Regions from separate parts of the Homo sapiens genome. Here region 1 is linked to region 2. A link means that fine-mapping ties the variant in region 2 to the expression of a gene that starts in the linked region. Tissue or cell type: coronary artery. Region 2 holds a variant in brackets; the other region holds the start of a gene. All regions are shown on one strand. Distances are from middle to middle.

What was found. PIP is the estimated chance that this variant, and not a neighbour inherited with it, causes the effect. A credible set is the group of variants that fine-mapping cannot tell apart.
Region 1: it holds the start of CALCRL-AS1, and the variant in region 2 is the best candidate, but not a certain one, in a credible set for the expression of CALCRL-AS1 in coronary artery (GTEx, PIP 0.73).

What each region holds. Positions count from the first base shown.
Region 1 is chr2:186,999,147-187,007,006 of GRCh38, forward strand. CALCRL-AS1 (CALCRL and TFPI antisense RNA 1) reads left to right here and starts at 4,127. Exons shown (of 6, transcript NR_187179.1): 1 at 4,127-4,219. It also overlaps the pseudogene IMPDH1P7.
Region 2 is chr2:187,530,320-187,538,179 of GRCh38, forward strand. All of the region lies in intron 1 of TFPI (tissue factor pathway inhibitor), which reads right to left. The region is part of intron 3 of CALCRL-AS1 (CALCRL and TFPI antisense RNA 1); the gene reads left to right. Among named protein-coding and RNA genes, the nearest start is that of TFPI, 20 kb to the right of the region's middle. The variant G/A (reference allele first, on the strand shown) is at 3,910.

The DNA.
Region 1 (7,860 bases), 530 kb before region 2:
TTTATATTATCTTTTAAATATATTACTGGATTCAGATTTTTGAGGATCTTTTTTGTTTATGTTCATGAGAAATAGTGCATTGTAGTTTACTTTTCTTGTAATATTTTTTGTTGATTTTGGTATCAAGGTAATCTTGGTTTCATAAAATGAGTTGGGAAATATATACCCCTCAGCCTCAGCTTCCTTTTCTGGAAGAAATTATGTGAAATTAGTATTATTTCTTTGTTAAATATTTAGTAAAATTTACCATCTGGGATTAGAGTTTTTATTTTTGGAAGTTTTTAAATAAAATATTTAATTTTCTACTAGATGAAGACATAGACAATTTACTATTTAGTGAGTTTTGGTTATTTTACATTTTTCAAGGAAGTGGTCTATCACATTTAAGCTGTTTAAATCATGGGCATAGAGTTGTTGGTACTATTAGTCTTTTAATATCTGTGGAGTCTGTGGGAGTACATGTCTTTCATTCCTTACATAGTTAATTTTTGTTTTCATTTATTTCAAAATATTTTTCAAGTTCCCACTCTACTACTTGTTTGACTCATGGTTTATTTAATTTTCAAATATTTAGGTGCTTTACAGATTTTTTTCTGTTACTCGTGTTTGGAAAATATAATGTATAATATATACAAAATATAATTTGATTTTTTCTGAATTTGTTGAGGTGTTTTATGGTCTATGTTGGTGAATGTTCCATGTGCACTAGAGGAGAATATGCATTCTTCTACTAGTGGGCAAGAGTGTTCTACAAATGTCAATTAGGTCAAGTTGGTTGATAGTGTTGTTCATGCCTTCTGTGTCCTTACTGATTTTCTATCTACTTGCTCTCTCATGTCCATTACATTTACATACATTGGAACCTTTCTAGAAATGTTATAAAATTTGATTTCAAAAGTCATATATATTTTTATAAACTGAGAGGAGAAAAACATTAAATTATATTTATTCAGATACCCAAGCATTTCTTTTGCTTTATCCTCATTCTTAAGGTTACAAGTTTCCCTTTGTTATAATTTCCCTTAAGTCTTGTTTGGGTTTAAACTATTTTTCTGAACTTCTTGAATTTTTTCTGTAAATTTATATTTTTCACTGAACTTGGAGGAAGTTTTTCATCCACTATATCTTCAAATATTTTTCTTCACCAATCAGTTTTTCCCTTTACTTCATAGATGCCAATGACACCACTACTAGATTTTTTGAATCTTGTTATTATATTATCTACAGGCCCTAGAGGCTCTGGCCATTTTCATTTTCAATCTTTTCTCTCTGTTATTTAGACTAGATAATTTTTATTGATCAATTTTTAAGTTTACTGACTTTTTCCTCTGTCATCTCTATTCCTTATTGAACCTGTCTAGGAAATTTTAAAATTTCAAGTGTTGTGTTGTATTTTTTACTTTTTAAATGTCCAGTTTTTCCCTTTTCTTTTTCCAGTAGTTTCTATTGCTCTGTTAAGAACGTCTTTATTTCCATTAATTTCAAGAGCGTTCACCTTTGCCTCATGGAGCATGGTTATCATAGCTACAATAAAGTCTTTTTTCCAACATCTGGATCATCTTAGATTTGACATTTGTTGATTGTTGTTTCAGTGGAAAACAGGTCCAATTTTTTTTTTATTATTTGTATGTTGAGCAATTTTGCATTGCATCTTCAAAGTTTTGAGTAATGTGTTGTGAGAGTCTGCATCTTGTTAAAATCTTCTGAAGTTTTTTTGTTTACTAATAAATCCAGTTGGGTTCAGACCATGAGTTCTATCTTGCCTTCCACTGGTGCTAGTTCGAATGTCAGTTCAGGGTTTAAAGTCTTTATTGTTATCTGAAACAGTCAGGGATTAGTATAAGACTTTGGAGCTGATTCACAGACAATTCTTAAAGCTTTTGCTATGCTGCTTTGGATGTGTTCCATTCAGGCAGAGTTTGGGGGTACACCAGGGAATTTTCTTCTTCACTTCTTATTTATTTATTTATTTTTTATTTTTATTATTTCTTTTGGAGGTGTTGAGACCTGCTTGATTTATTCCGATTATTTAATACACAATTATACAATTGTGATCCCAAACTGTGCAAAGTGAGCCTTCAACTGCAGCTGAGGAGAGGGCAGGAATGATATACCTGGGGACGGTGGTGAGTCAGGAATGACGGGAAGGTGGCCATGATCAGGGAAGCCTCCTTCCCAGGGCCAGGGACAGGGGAGTGGCCTGAGGAGCAGGACCCAAGGGTAGCCCAGGGCCGGGGAAGTGGGCAGAGACCTCCCGTTGGCCTAGGTCAAGAGCTCAGAAGTGCCACATGGCTGAGGGGTTAGTGGCCCAGGAAGTGCCAGAGGCAGGGCCAGGAGAGCACCATTTCCTCGGGGGCTGGGGGCAGGGAGGTGCCCTACAGGAGAAGCCAGGAGGGGCCTCTTGTCCCTGTGGTGGGGGCCGGGCTGGAGCAGGCTGCAGCAAGAAAGACCTGAGGCATGCGCAGGGCCTGAGAGCCTGGCTGGCTGGGCTGGTGTGTGTGTGTTGGGGGGTTCCCAGGGCACTCTGGCCCAGGGAGCAGTTCTGATTCTGCAGGCGATGCCCAGCAAGAGGCTGCAGACCCCTCAGAACTTCCCCTCCTTTCTCCCTGGAAAGGAGCTGGGGAACCTATAGTGCAAGTCTGTGGACCACTCAGTTATGGAGGGAGGCTGTGCCTGAAAGTGGACACTGCGGTATGCCCCTTCCACCACCTTGGCCTCCACTGCTGTCCTCAGTACAGCCGCTTCTCCTAAGAGTGCAGGCCATGGACGCCACCCTTGATCTGGGCCGACATGGTTTGCTTCTCAAAATTCAGTTCTCCTGAGTACATCATGGACTGAAGGACAGACAGGCTGCGGCCCAATATCCTGGCAGCCAGGCTGGATGCCCGCTATGAGGTAGGACACGAACTTATGAATGGATCCTTTGTCCTGGATGGAGCCCAAGACACCCTGCGCGATCTTCACCTTATTCCCCTTGCTGACGTATCATTTCTGGCTGCTGCTGCTCTTCTCCATGGCATCCAGTGAGCCCATGCCCTGGTACTTCTTGAGCCGCACCCCATCTGAGAAGAAATACTCGCCGGGGTCCTACGTGGTGGTGGCCAGCAGGGAGCCCATCATCACTGTGGAGGCTCCAAGGGCCAGGGCCTTAACCACGTGCCCCACGGTCTAGATGCCGCCATCGGCTATGATGGACACACCAAAGCACAGGGCATACTCGGCCACCTTGTACAATGCAGTGCCCTGGGGCCCACCGCAGGCCATCACTTCCTGGGTGATGCAGATGGAGCCGCAGCCCATACCTATGCGCAGCCCGTCCACCGCAGCGTCAATCAGGTTTTTGGCCTGGGCGGCTGTCATCCCAATCACCTGGAGGTGGGGGTACTTCTGTTTGATGTAATGCACCGTGGCAATCTGATACACCGAGTTCCCTTGGGACAAGTCCAAGACTACGACGTCTACCCCCGCCTGGGTGAGCAAGTCCAGGCGGTATTTGTCATCCTCAGGGGTGCCCACAGCTGCCCCACGCAGTAGCTGCTTGTGGGAATCCTTGGAGGCCAGAGGGTAGTCTCTGTTCTTCTTCAGGTCGGTGCAGGTGATCATGGCCACCAGCTCATCGGATCATTGACGAAAGACAGCTTCCCTTTCTTGCTATGCTGCAGGATCTCATTTGCCTCTTTCAACATCAGGCCTGCTGGAGCCAACACTGAGGAGGGTGGTGTGGTCCTCCTCAGCAAGAAAGTTGATGTCTCTGGAGGTGACGATGCCCACCAGCTTGCTGCCTATGGTGCCCGTCTCAGTGATGGGGATGCCAGAGAAGCCATGCCGCATCTTGGCCTCCAACACATCACCCACAGTGTGCGAGGGGGTCAGCACCACCGGGTCCGTGATGAAGCCCTGTTCAAACTTCTTGACCTTCCGCACCTCCTTGGCCTGGAACTCTGGGGTGCAGTTGTGGTGAATGAAACCAATACCTCCCATCAGAGCCATTGCAATGGCTATGTCGGCCTGTCACAGTGTCCGTGGGGGAGGAAATGAGCGGAGTCTTCAGCGTGATCTTCCGGGTCAGGGCTGAGGTCAGGTCCGCCTCATCAGCTATGAAGTCTGTGAATCCTGGGAGAATCAGGAAGTCGTCGTAGGTGAGGCAGTCGGCGCTGGCAAAGAGCTGCTGCGCGGGGAGCCAGTTATCGGGCACATAGTCGGTGCCGCCCCTGATCAGGTAGTCCGTCATGCTGCCGCGAAACCCTGCGACATCCGCGCGCAGCCGCCTGCTGCTGCTGCCCCCGCGCTGCGGCCATGCTGCCGCTGCGAGCCGGGCGGGGCCGCTTCTCTCTCTCTCTCTCTTTTTTTTTTTCTTTTTAAATAATTTTCTCTCTCAGAGTCTGTCTCTCAGGGTCCTCTTTTCCCAGTCCCTCTGGCCAGGAGTCTTCTAAGTTTTCCACACAGTTGCACAGTTCTGTGTTATTGGATATACCCGGGGGATGAAGTAATGAAAGAAAAGACTGAAAATAAAAATGGGAATTCCTTCCACAGTCTTTACACACAGAGGCCCCTAGAGGCCCATTTTCCTGGTTCCTCTGTCCAGAAAGATGGATTTCTAGGGCTTACATTCATGCTGCTGCCTCTACATGCACTGAAGCTGGTCAATGAAGCTGGCCTTGGGGCAGAGGGAGAGAAAAACACATTGGGATTTCACCTTCAACCTCCACTTTCCACCTCTCAGGGTCCCAGTTTCTTAGTACTCTGACAGAAAACCAGGGTTTTCTCAAAGTTTTTGCTGTCTGTTCCCATCACATTGTTCCCTGATTTGGCCCATCCTTAAGCCAAGACCAGATGATCTTGAAGGAAAATATCCTAGGAAACTCACTATTGGCATACTGGTCATTTTTTGAGTTTTGATGTCGCTCCTCAACCTCCTTGCTATTATTTTGTTTCGGAATCATCCTCAGGTAAGTGTTTTAGTATTTTGTCCTGAATTTTTAATTGTAATGAGTGAAAGAGAAAGATTCTAGCAGGCTTACTTCATCTTGGCTGGCACCTGAAGTCCATCCATAGGATATATTTTTAAATTGTTCATGTACTTGGCCACAAAGAAAGTCTCTAAGAGTTGGTAACACACAAAACATGTTCTCTGAAAACATTGCAATAAAATTAGTAAAGAATGCCAAAATGTGCTTTTCCGAATATTTTATAGCTTAAAGCAGAAATCAGATTGCAATTTATAAACTATTTAGATCTGAAAAACAAGAGAAGCACAACTGATAGACTACAACAAAAAGTATACTCACAGGAAAAATGTTAACCTTAAATGTCTGTACTAGGACAAAACAATTGGAAAATTATTAGCTAAATATTTAACTGAGCAATGATTAAGTGAAGAAGTTAGAAAAATAGTAAATCTTAAGAAGGTAGAAAGAAGTAATAATAACAGAAATAAAGGAATTTAGAAAACCAAGCCACAATAGGGAGATTCAGCATAGAATAAAGTTTGTTTTTTAGAAAAGATAAAAAACTTACACAAACCTCTAACAACATTAATCAAGAAAAACCAAAAATAGTCTACATTTTCATATTAAATTATTGAATAGTAAATTATGTATTAATATTTAATATAAAAATATAGATGTAATGGAATATTTCCTAGAGAATTAAACCTTATTAAAATCGATCCAGGAAGATATTTTAAAACTGAATACACTTACATCCATTAGGGAAATGCAATCAGTTGGGAAAATAAAAAGGAGTCCTAGTTATTGACATGCTTTTATCAAACTATCAGGCAATACGTAACTATTAACTTTTAAATTTTTCTAGAGAACAGATAATGTGTTCCTGGTCAGACACTTACTAACTGTATTCCTAGGTAAATGCTTAACACTCTCACTGGCTTAATTAGGATAATGACCAGAGTACCTACCACATAGAACTGTGATGATTAAATGGCAAAAACAAAAGAGATATGCTAAGAGCACTGACTGACATATAGTAAGTGCAAAATAAGTGTTAGCTATTCTTTTCTTCTTATTATTATGGTACCAAAACCAGAAAAGGTTAGTGCTTAAAAGAAATTCTTTAGACCAGTATTACTTAATATAGATGTAAAGATACTAAGTAACACATTAGCTAACTAGATTCAGCAAAATATTAAAAATGCATCATGGCCAAATAATATGTATTCTAGGATTTCAAGGATGACTTAATATTAAAAATTTTGTTAATCTTAATATATTACTATGTTAACAGATTAAAAGAGAAAAAGTTTATGATTGATTCAGTAGATTCAGAAAACTCATGCAATAAATGCAGCACCCATTTGTAATGAAAACTTTTCACAAACTGGGAAAAGGAAGGTACTTGCTCACTTACCAAAGTGTATCTAAACCTGTAGCAAATACTATTAATGGTGAAACCTTACAAGATCTCCATTAAAGTAGGGAGCTATGCAAGAATTTTATAGGAGTTCGTAATTAATGCAGTAAGACAAGGATAACAAGTAAGAAGAATGAGAATTGGCATGGGAGAAACTAAATTTCATTATTTGCATATGATGTAATTATGTATATATAAAATCTGAGATGGCTTATAAATGAATTATTGGCACTAATAAGAGGTCAGCATGTTCCTGGATATAGAATGAATATATAAAAATCATTGACATTCTTATTTATTCCCTATATGCTTAAACTGTTACAGAAACTAAGATCAAATTCATAAGAGGTACAAAAACTAAAAGGTACCTGAATATTTACTGAAGGATATGAGAGAATGCCAAAAAACTGGATATTAATTGATGGGAAAAGTTAATACTGTTAGGAAATAAATTCTCCTCCAATTAATTTACAAACCCTATATAGTATCAGTTAAACTAACTCTAAAATTTCTTTGGAATGTGAAAGGATCAGGAATATCTAAGCCTTTTTTTTAGTGAGAAAGGAGAAGACATTCTTTGCAGATATGAGGAGAAACTGTAAAAGTGTAAGTATTCAGCTGTCTTACTATTTGTACAGGCTAGACAAACCAACTAATGGAAAGGAACAAAGAACCCAGACAAAGACTTATGCATATGTAAGAACTCAGTTCAGGCATTATTAATTGGTTGTGAAATAACAAAGTTTTAAATAAATGGTTCCAGGTAAAATTAATTATCCTTATTAAAAATTTGCAATTCATAACACATTAAAATAAATTCCAGATAGATTAAAGACCCCAATATGAGAAAAAATTTATAAAGATTTTGGAAGGAAATATAGGAGAATCACATATTTTAAAGAGGATGATAATAAGCACAAAAGTTTAAAGAAAATTATTGATAACCTTGACCTTATTAAAATGTAAGGCTCTGTAATACAGGAGACATTGAAGAAAGTTAATAAAAAATAATAATTGAAGAAAAGCAATTTATGACGTTTGTAACAACAAAATATTGGTATCTTACTATAGTAAAAAAGTCTTCTGAAAATGAATATAAGCATAAGACAAATTACCTAACTGAAAATTGGGTAAATCAAACAAACTGAAGATTCTATTTAAAAAAGAAGCTGGAAAGATAGACAGCTGAAAAGATCTTTAATCTGAATAGTTGAGGGAGCATGCTAATGGATTTGAAAATGGAATACCATTTCACAGTCACCACTGGCAGACCTCTGACAACTAAAACGTCGACAATACTTAGCTTTTGGAGGTGTGGAGAAACAAGCTCTCATATGCTCTCAGTGGCTGTGTAAATGAGTCAACTACTTTGGAAAAACACTTAGATAATATCAAGGAAAGTGGACTGTGAGTATAGTAGATATCCCAGAAATTCCATTTCTAGGTGGATGCTCTACTGTTTTTTATGTGCATAAGAAAACATGTACAAGA
Region 2 (7,860 bases):
CAAAATTGCGCACAATAAAATTCGCATACTAAACATTCTAAGGGCCCTAATCTAAATATGTAATATTTACCACAAGATTTTAGGAAAATGATCAGTTATTATCATGAATATGAAAAAAGTTGGAAAGACATTCCCAATGGCAGCAGAGAGAAAACCTGGTAAATCCTACCCATATTGTCAACATTATCTCTTCACTTTTGGCATCGTCCCCTGACTTAATCACATGAATGGAATGGAAATATTGCTTCTATATAAAATCTCTACTCAAGTGGTGTCTTTCAGAGCGTAAAATAACTTGATGGTTACGTTCTCTTCCTTCCTATGCTTTTTAAATCACTGTACCTCTTCCTGTGTTACACATTATATATTTATTTGCTTACTCTGTCTTTTCTCTCAAATGTAAGCTCTTTAAATATGGGAATCATGTTTGTTCTTTCTGGTACCCTCTGGAACTCAATGGATATTTGTGAAATAAATCTTTTATGAATTAAAAATTCGGTAAAAATTGTTTTATTTTGTATTTTTTTTACAGAAAGTAAAAGGTCACTGGAGAAATTTAAAACAAATATATAAGCTAAAATTATTTTAAATGGTATGAATAAAAGTGAATATAATGGGTAATGGGCCTCGAGTATAAACTAATCCTTTATTAGGGAAGACAATTATTACTTAACTAATCATTTTTCCTTTCTTCCACCTTTGTTTCTCACAAAACCTGTCCATATTCTGTACTCATAAAATGTATTCTCAAAACTTCTATTAAATGGACAGTAATGGAGTCACAGCAGCATCTGGCCACAACTGACTTGCCAAGGAGTCAATACCTTTACAGACTCAGGCTAACTACTGTCTGTAGAAAGGTGTGTGGTATAGAGTTCTACAGAGGGCCAGTACTAGAGAGGCTGCTGCAGTAAACTTAGTTGTTTATATTTTAGTTTCTGGCTTAGCTCATGACTGTAGAGTCTCTAATATACTCTATATTCTACCAAAGAATTCCAAATTGTGCTTTCAAGGTCTTATTATATAAAATGTTTATTGTGTCTGAATGAATTCAGTCCGACAATGAATCATTAAAATGTGATGTATTTTATCAGCACCTTATTGATGTAATAATTCGTTTCTTTTTACAGTTATTACAAGTGTCAATAACAGAAAAATATTCACAGAAATTTTTCTGTTTTTTTGCAACCATTTGATTATAAATAAATTTTCATATCAATTTTTCTATTTAAAAATATCGATAGCATATTCCTCTTTTGATATGATTTATATGATCATGATAATCGTACAAGTTCTATGTCAACCAAAAATTTTATTTTTCCTCATCTCTGCAATGGGAAAAATTAAAAAAGGTTTACCAATGCAGTCACCTAGAAATTGACCATTTTATTTATGTTTGATGCCATTTACAAAAATAGTTTATTTTTCATGTAAGTGATACATTGACATGTCTAAAGACAGCATTCTATTTGATATTATTAAAATTGTATTCATTATAGTTAAATAAAATTTTTCTATGACCTTTTATAATACACTTAAATACTTTCTTCCAAAGGTAGAAAGGATTGAGAGAATGAAGATTTCTTACCAACTGCTTTTATTTAAAATTTTTTTTTCAAAATTGGAGGATTCTATTTATTTTTAGCTACATATTTAACTAACTGTTCTATTCTTTTAGTATTTAAAATATTAAAACTGTCTTTTTACACTGGAAAAGTAATACATGTGTATTTTTCCAAATCATAAAACATAAAGCAGAATAAAGAAAATACAGAATAACCATCAATCTGCCTATTCAGAAGCAACCTCTGGTTGTATATGATTTCTTATGCATGTTAATATGTATAAGTGTGTGTATATGTGTGATTATATTTATATGAGCATATGTGAATGATCATTGCACATATATTGTTTGGTAACCTCCTTTGTCATTGAATGAGATAATATTGATAACTTTTGAGTTGCAGGCAAGATGGCTGAATAGAAACAGCTCTGGTCTGCAGCTTCCAGTGAGATCAATGCAGAAGGTGCGTGATTTCTGCATTTCCAACTGAGGTACCCAGCTCATCTCATTGGGACTGGTTAGACATTGGGTGTAGCCCATGGAGGGCAAGCCGAAGCAGGGTGCTGCGTTGCCTCACCTGGGAAGCACAAGGGGTCAGGGAACTCCCTCCCCTAGCCAAGGGAAGCCGTGAGGGGCTGTGCCATGAAGAACAGTGCATTCTGGCCCAGATACAACGCTTTCCCCATGGTCTTTGCAACCCGCAGACCAGGAGATTCCATCGCGTGCTTACGCCATTGAGGCCCTGGGTTTCAAGAAAAAAATTGGACAGCCTTTGGGCAGTCACCTACCAAGCTGCGGGAGTTTTTTTTTTCATACCCCAGTGGCGTCTGGAATGCCAGTGAGACAGAACCATCATCCCCTGGAAAGGGGGCTTAAGCCAGGGAGGCAAGTGGTCTAGCTGAGTGGATCTCAGCCCCATGGAGCCCAGCAAGCTAAGATCCACTGGTTTGAAATTCTTGCTCCTAGCACAGCAGCCTTAAGTCGACCTGGGATACTCCAGCTTTGTCAGGGGAGGGGCATCCGCCATTACAGAGGCTTGAGTAGCCGGTTTTCCCCTCACAGTGTAAACAAAGCCCCAGGGAAGTTCCAGCACAGCTCCTCAAACCCACTGTAGCCAGACTGCCTCTCTAGATTCTTCCTCTCTGGGCAGGGCATCTCAGAAAGAAAAACAGCAGCCCCAGTCAGGGGCTTATAGATCAAACTCCCATCTCCCTGGGACAGAGCACCTGGGGAAGGGGTGGATGTGGACACAGCTTCAGCAGACTTAAACATTCGTGTCTGCCAGCTATGGAGCGAGCAGCGGATATCCCAGCACAGTGTTCGAGCTCTGCTAAGAGACAGACTGCCTCTTCAAGTGGGTTCCTGACCCCCGTGCCTCCTGACTGGGAGACACCTCCCAGCAAAGGTCAACAGACACCTCATACAGGAGAGCTCCAGCTGGCATATGGTGGGTTCCCCTCTGGGATGAGGCTTCCAGAGGAAGGAATAGCAGTAATCTTAGCTGTTCTACAGCCTCCACTGGTGATACCCAGGCAAACAGGGTCTGGAGTGGACCTCAAGCAAACTCCAGCAGACCTGCAGCGGAGGGACCTGACTGTTAAAAGGAAAACTAACAAACAGAAAGGAATAGTATTAACATCAACAAAGAGGACATCCACACAGAAACCCCACACAAACGTCACCAACATCAAAGACGAAAGGTACATAAATCCAGAAAGATGAGGAAAAACCAGCACAAAAAGGCTGGAAATTCCAAAAACCAGAACATCTCTTCTCCTCCAAAGGATCACAACTCCTTGCCAGCAAGGGAACAAAACTTGATGAAGAATGAGTTTGATGAATTGACAGAAGTGGCTTCAGAAGGTGGGTAATAACAAACTCCTCCAAGCTAAGGGAGCATGTTCTAACCCAATGCAAGGAAGCTAAGAACCTTGAAAAAAGTATGGAGAAATTGCTAACTAGAATAACCAGTTTAGGAAAGAACATAAATGACCTGATGGAGCTGAAAAACCCAGCATGAGAACTTCGTGAAGCATACACAAGTATCAATAGCTGAATCAATCTAGTGGAAGAAAGGATATCAGAGATTGAAGATCAACTTAAGGAAATAAAGCATGAAGACAAGATTAGAGAAAAAAAAGAATGAAAAGGAATGAAGAAAGCCTCCAAGAAATATGAGACTGAATGAAAAGACCAAACCCACATTTGATTGGTGTACTTGAAAGTGACAGGGAGAATGGAAAGAAGTTGGAGAACACTCTTCAGGATATTATCCAGGAGAACTTCCCCAACCTAGCAAGACAGGCCAACATTCAAATTCAGGAAATACAGAGAACACCACAAAG[G/A]TACTCCTCAAGAAAAGCAACCCAAAAACACATAATCATCAGATTCAACAAGGTTGAAATGAAGGAAAAAATGTTAAGGGCAGCCAGAGAGAAATGTTGGGTTTCCCATAAAGGGAAGCCCATCAGATTAACAGTGGATCTCTCTGCAGAAACTTTACAAGCCAGAAGAGAGTGGGGGCCAATATTCCACATTCTTAAAGAAAATAATTTTCAAGCCAGAATTTCATATCAAGCAAAACTAAGCTTCATAAGTGAAGTATAAATAAAATATTTTACAGACAAGCAAATGCTGAGAGATTTTGTCACCACCAAGCTTGCCTTACAAGAGCTCCTGAAGGAGGCACTAAATATGGAAAGAAACAATCGGTACCAGCCACTGCAAAAACATAACAGATTGTAAAGACCGTCAACACTATGAAGCAACTGCATCAACTAACAGGCAAAATAACCAGCTAGCATCATAATGACAGGATCAAATTCACACATAGCAATATTAACCTTAAATGTAAATGGGTTAAATGCCCCAGTTAAAAGACATAGACTGGCAAATTAGATAGAGTCAAAACCCATTGGTGTGCTGTATTCAGGAGTCCCATGTCACGTGCAAAAACACACATTGACTCAAAGTAAAGGGATAGAGGAATATTGACCAAGCAAATGGAAAGCAAAAAAAAAAATAAAAAAATAAAAAAAATCAGGGGTTGCAATGCTAGTCTCTGATAAAGCAGACTTTAAACCAACAAAGATCGAAAGAGCCAAAGATGGGCATTACATAATGGTAAAGGAATCAATGCAACAAGAAGAGCTAACAATCCTAAATACATATGCACCAAATACAGGAGCACCCAGATTCATAAAGCAAGTTATTAGAGACCTACGAAGAGATTTAGACTCCCACACAATAATAGTGGGAGACTTTAACACCCCACTGTCAATATTACACAGATCAATGAGACAGAAAGTTAAAAAGGATATCCAGGAGCTGAACTCAGCTCTGCAACAAGCAGACCTAATAGACATCTACAGAACTCTGAACCCCAAATCAACAGAATATATATTCTTCTCAGCACCACATCACACTTATTCTAAAATTGACCGCATAATTGGAAGCAAAACACTCCTCAGCAAATGCAAAAGAACGGAAATTATAACAGTCTCTCAGACCACAGTGCAATCAAATTAGAACTCAGGATTAAGAAACTCACTCAAAACCATACAACTACATGGAAACTGATCAACCAGCTCCTGAAGGACTACTGGGTAAATAACAAAATCAAGGCAGAAATAAATAAGTTATTTGAAACCAATGAGAATAAAGACACAACATACCAAAATTTCTGGGACACAGCTAAAGCAGTGTTTAGAGGGAAATTTATAGCACTAAATGCCGACAGGAGAAAGTGGGAAAGATCTAAAGTTGACAACCAAACATTGCAATTAAAAGAACTAGAGAAGCTAGAGCAAACAAATTGAAAAGCTAACAGAAGACAAGAAATAACTAAGATCAGAGCAGAAAAGAGGGAGATAGAGACAGGAAAAACTTCAAAAAATCACTGAATCCAGGAGCTGGTTTTTTAAAAAGATTAACAAAATAGACAGACCGTTAACCAGACTAATGAAGAAGAAAAGAGAGAAGAATCAAATAGACACAATACAAAATGATAAAGTGGATATCACAACTGATCCCACAGAAATACAAACTACCATCAGAGAATACTATAAAAACCTCTAAGCAAATAAACTAGAAAATCTAGAAGAAATGGATAAATTCCTGGACACATACAACCTCCCAAGACTAAACCAGGAAGAAGTCAAACGCCTGAATAGACCAATAACAAGTCCTGAAATTGAGGCAGTAATCAATAGAATACCAACCAAAAAAAGCCCAGGACCAAAGAAATTCACAGCCGAATTCTACCAGAAGTACAAAGAGTAGCTGGTACTATTCCTTCTGAAACTATTCCAAACAATAGAAAAAGAGGGACTCCTCCCTAACTCATTTTATGAGGCCAGCATCATCCTGATACCAAAACCTGGCAGAGACACATGCACAAAAAGAAAAATTCAGGCCAATATCCCTGATGAATATCGATGCAAAAATCCTCAATAAAATACTGGCAAACTGAATCCAGCAGCACATCAAAAAGCTTATCCCCCACCATTAAGTTGGCTTCATCCCTGGGATGCAAGGCTGGTTCAACATATGCAAATCAATAAACTTAATCCATCACATAAACAGAATCAATGACAAAAACCACATGATTATCTCAATACATGCAGAAGAGGCCTTTGATAAAATTCAGCATGGCTTTATGCTAAAAACTCTCAATAAACTTGGTATTGATAGAATGCATCTCAAAATAATAAGAGCTATTTATGACAAACTCACTGCCAATATCATACTGAATGGGCAAAAGCTAGACACATTCCCTTTGAAAACTGACACAAGACAAGGATGCCCTCTCTCACCACTCCTATTCAACATAGTATTGGAAGTTCAGGCAAGGGCAATCAGGTAAGAGAAAGAAATAAAGGGTATTCAAATAGGAAAAGAGGAAGTCAAATTTTCTCTGTTTGCAGATGACATGATTGTATATTTAGAAAACACCATCATCTCAGTCCAAAATCTCCTTAAGCTGAAAAGCAACTTCAGCAAAGTCTCAGGATACAAAATCAATGTGAAAAAACCACAAGCATTCTTGTACACCAATAACAGACAAACAGACAGCCAAATCATGAGTGAACTCCCATTCACAGTTGCTACAAAGAGAATAAAAGACCTAGGAATACAACTCACAAGAGATGTGAAGGACCTCTTCAAGGAGATCTACAAACCACTGCTCAAGGAAATAAGAGAGGACACAAACAAATGGAAAAACAGTTCATGCTCATGGATAAGAAAAATCAATATCATGAAAATAGCCATACTGTCCTAAGTAATTTATAGATTCAATGCTATCCCCATCAAGCTACCATTTACTTTCTTCACATATTAGAAAAAGCAAACTACTTTAAATTTCATATGGAACCAAAAAACAGTCTATATAGCCAAGACAATCCTAAGCAAAAAGAACAAAGCTGGAGGCATCACGCTACCTGACTTCAAACTATACTACAAGGCTACAGTAACCAAAACAGCACGGTACTGGTACAAAAGCAGATATAAAGACCAATGGAACAGAACAGAGGCCTCAGAGATAACGCCACACATCTACATCCATCTGATCTTTGACACACCTGACAAAAACCAGCAATGGGGAAAGGATTCCCTATTTAATAAATCGTGTTGGGAAAACTGGCTAGCCATATGCAGAAAACAGGAACTGGACCCCTTCCTTATACCTTACACAAAAATTAACTCAAGATGCATTAAATACTTAAATGTAAGTCCTAAAACCATAAAACCCTAGAATAAAACCTAGGCAATACCATTCAGGACATAGGCATGGCCGAAGACTTCATCACTAAAACACCAAAAGCAATGGCAACAAAAGCCAAAATTGACAAATGGGATCTAATTAAACTAAAGAGTTTCTGCACAGCAAAAGAAACTATCTTCAGAGTGAACAGGCAACCTACAGAATGGGAGAAAATTTTTGCAATCTATCCATCTGACAAAGGGCTAATATTCAGAATCTACAAAGAACTTAAACAAATTTACAAGAAAAAAACAACCCCATCAAAAAGTGGACAAAGGATATGAACAGACACTTCTCAAAAGAAGACATTTATGCAATCAACAAACATATGAATAAAAGCTCATTATCACTGGTCATTAGAGAAATGCAAATCAAATCCACAGTGAGATACCATCTCACACCCATTAGAATAGCAATCATTAAAAAGCCAAGAAACAACAGATGCTGGAGAAGATGTGGAGTAATAGGAATGCTTTTGCACTGTTGGTGGGAGTGTAAATTAATTCAACCACTGTGGAAGACAATGTGGTGA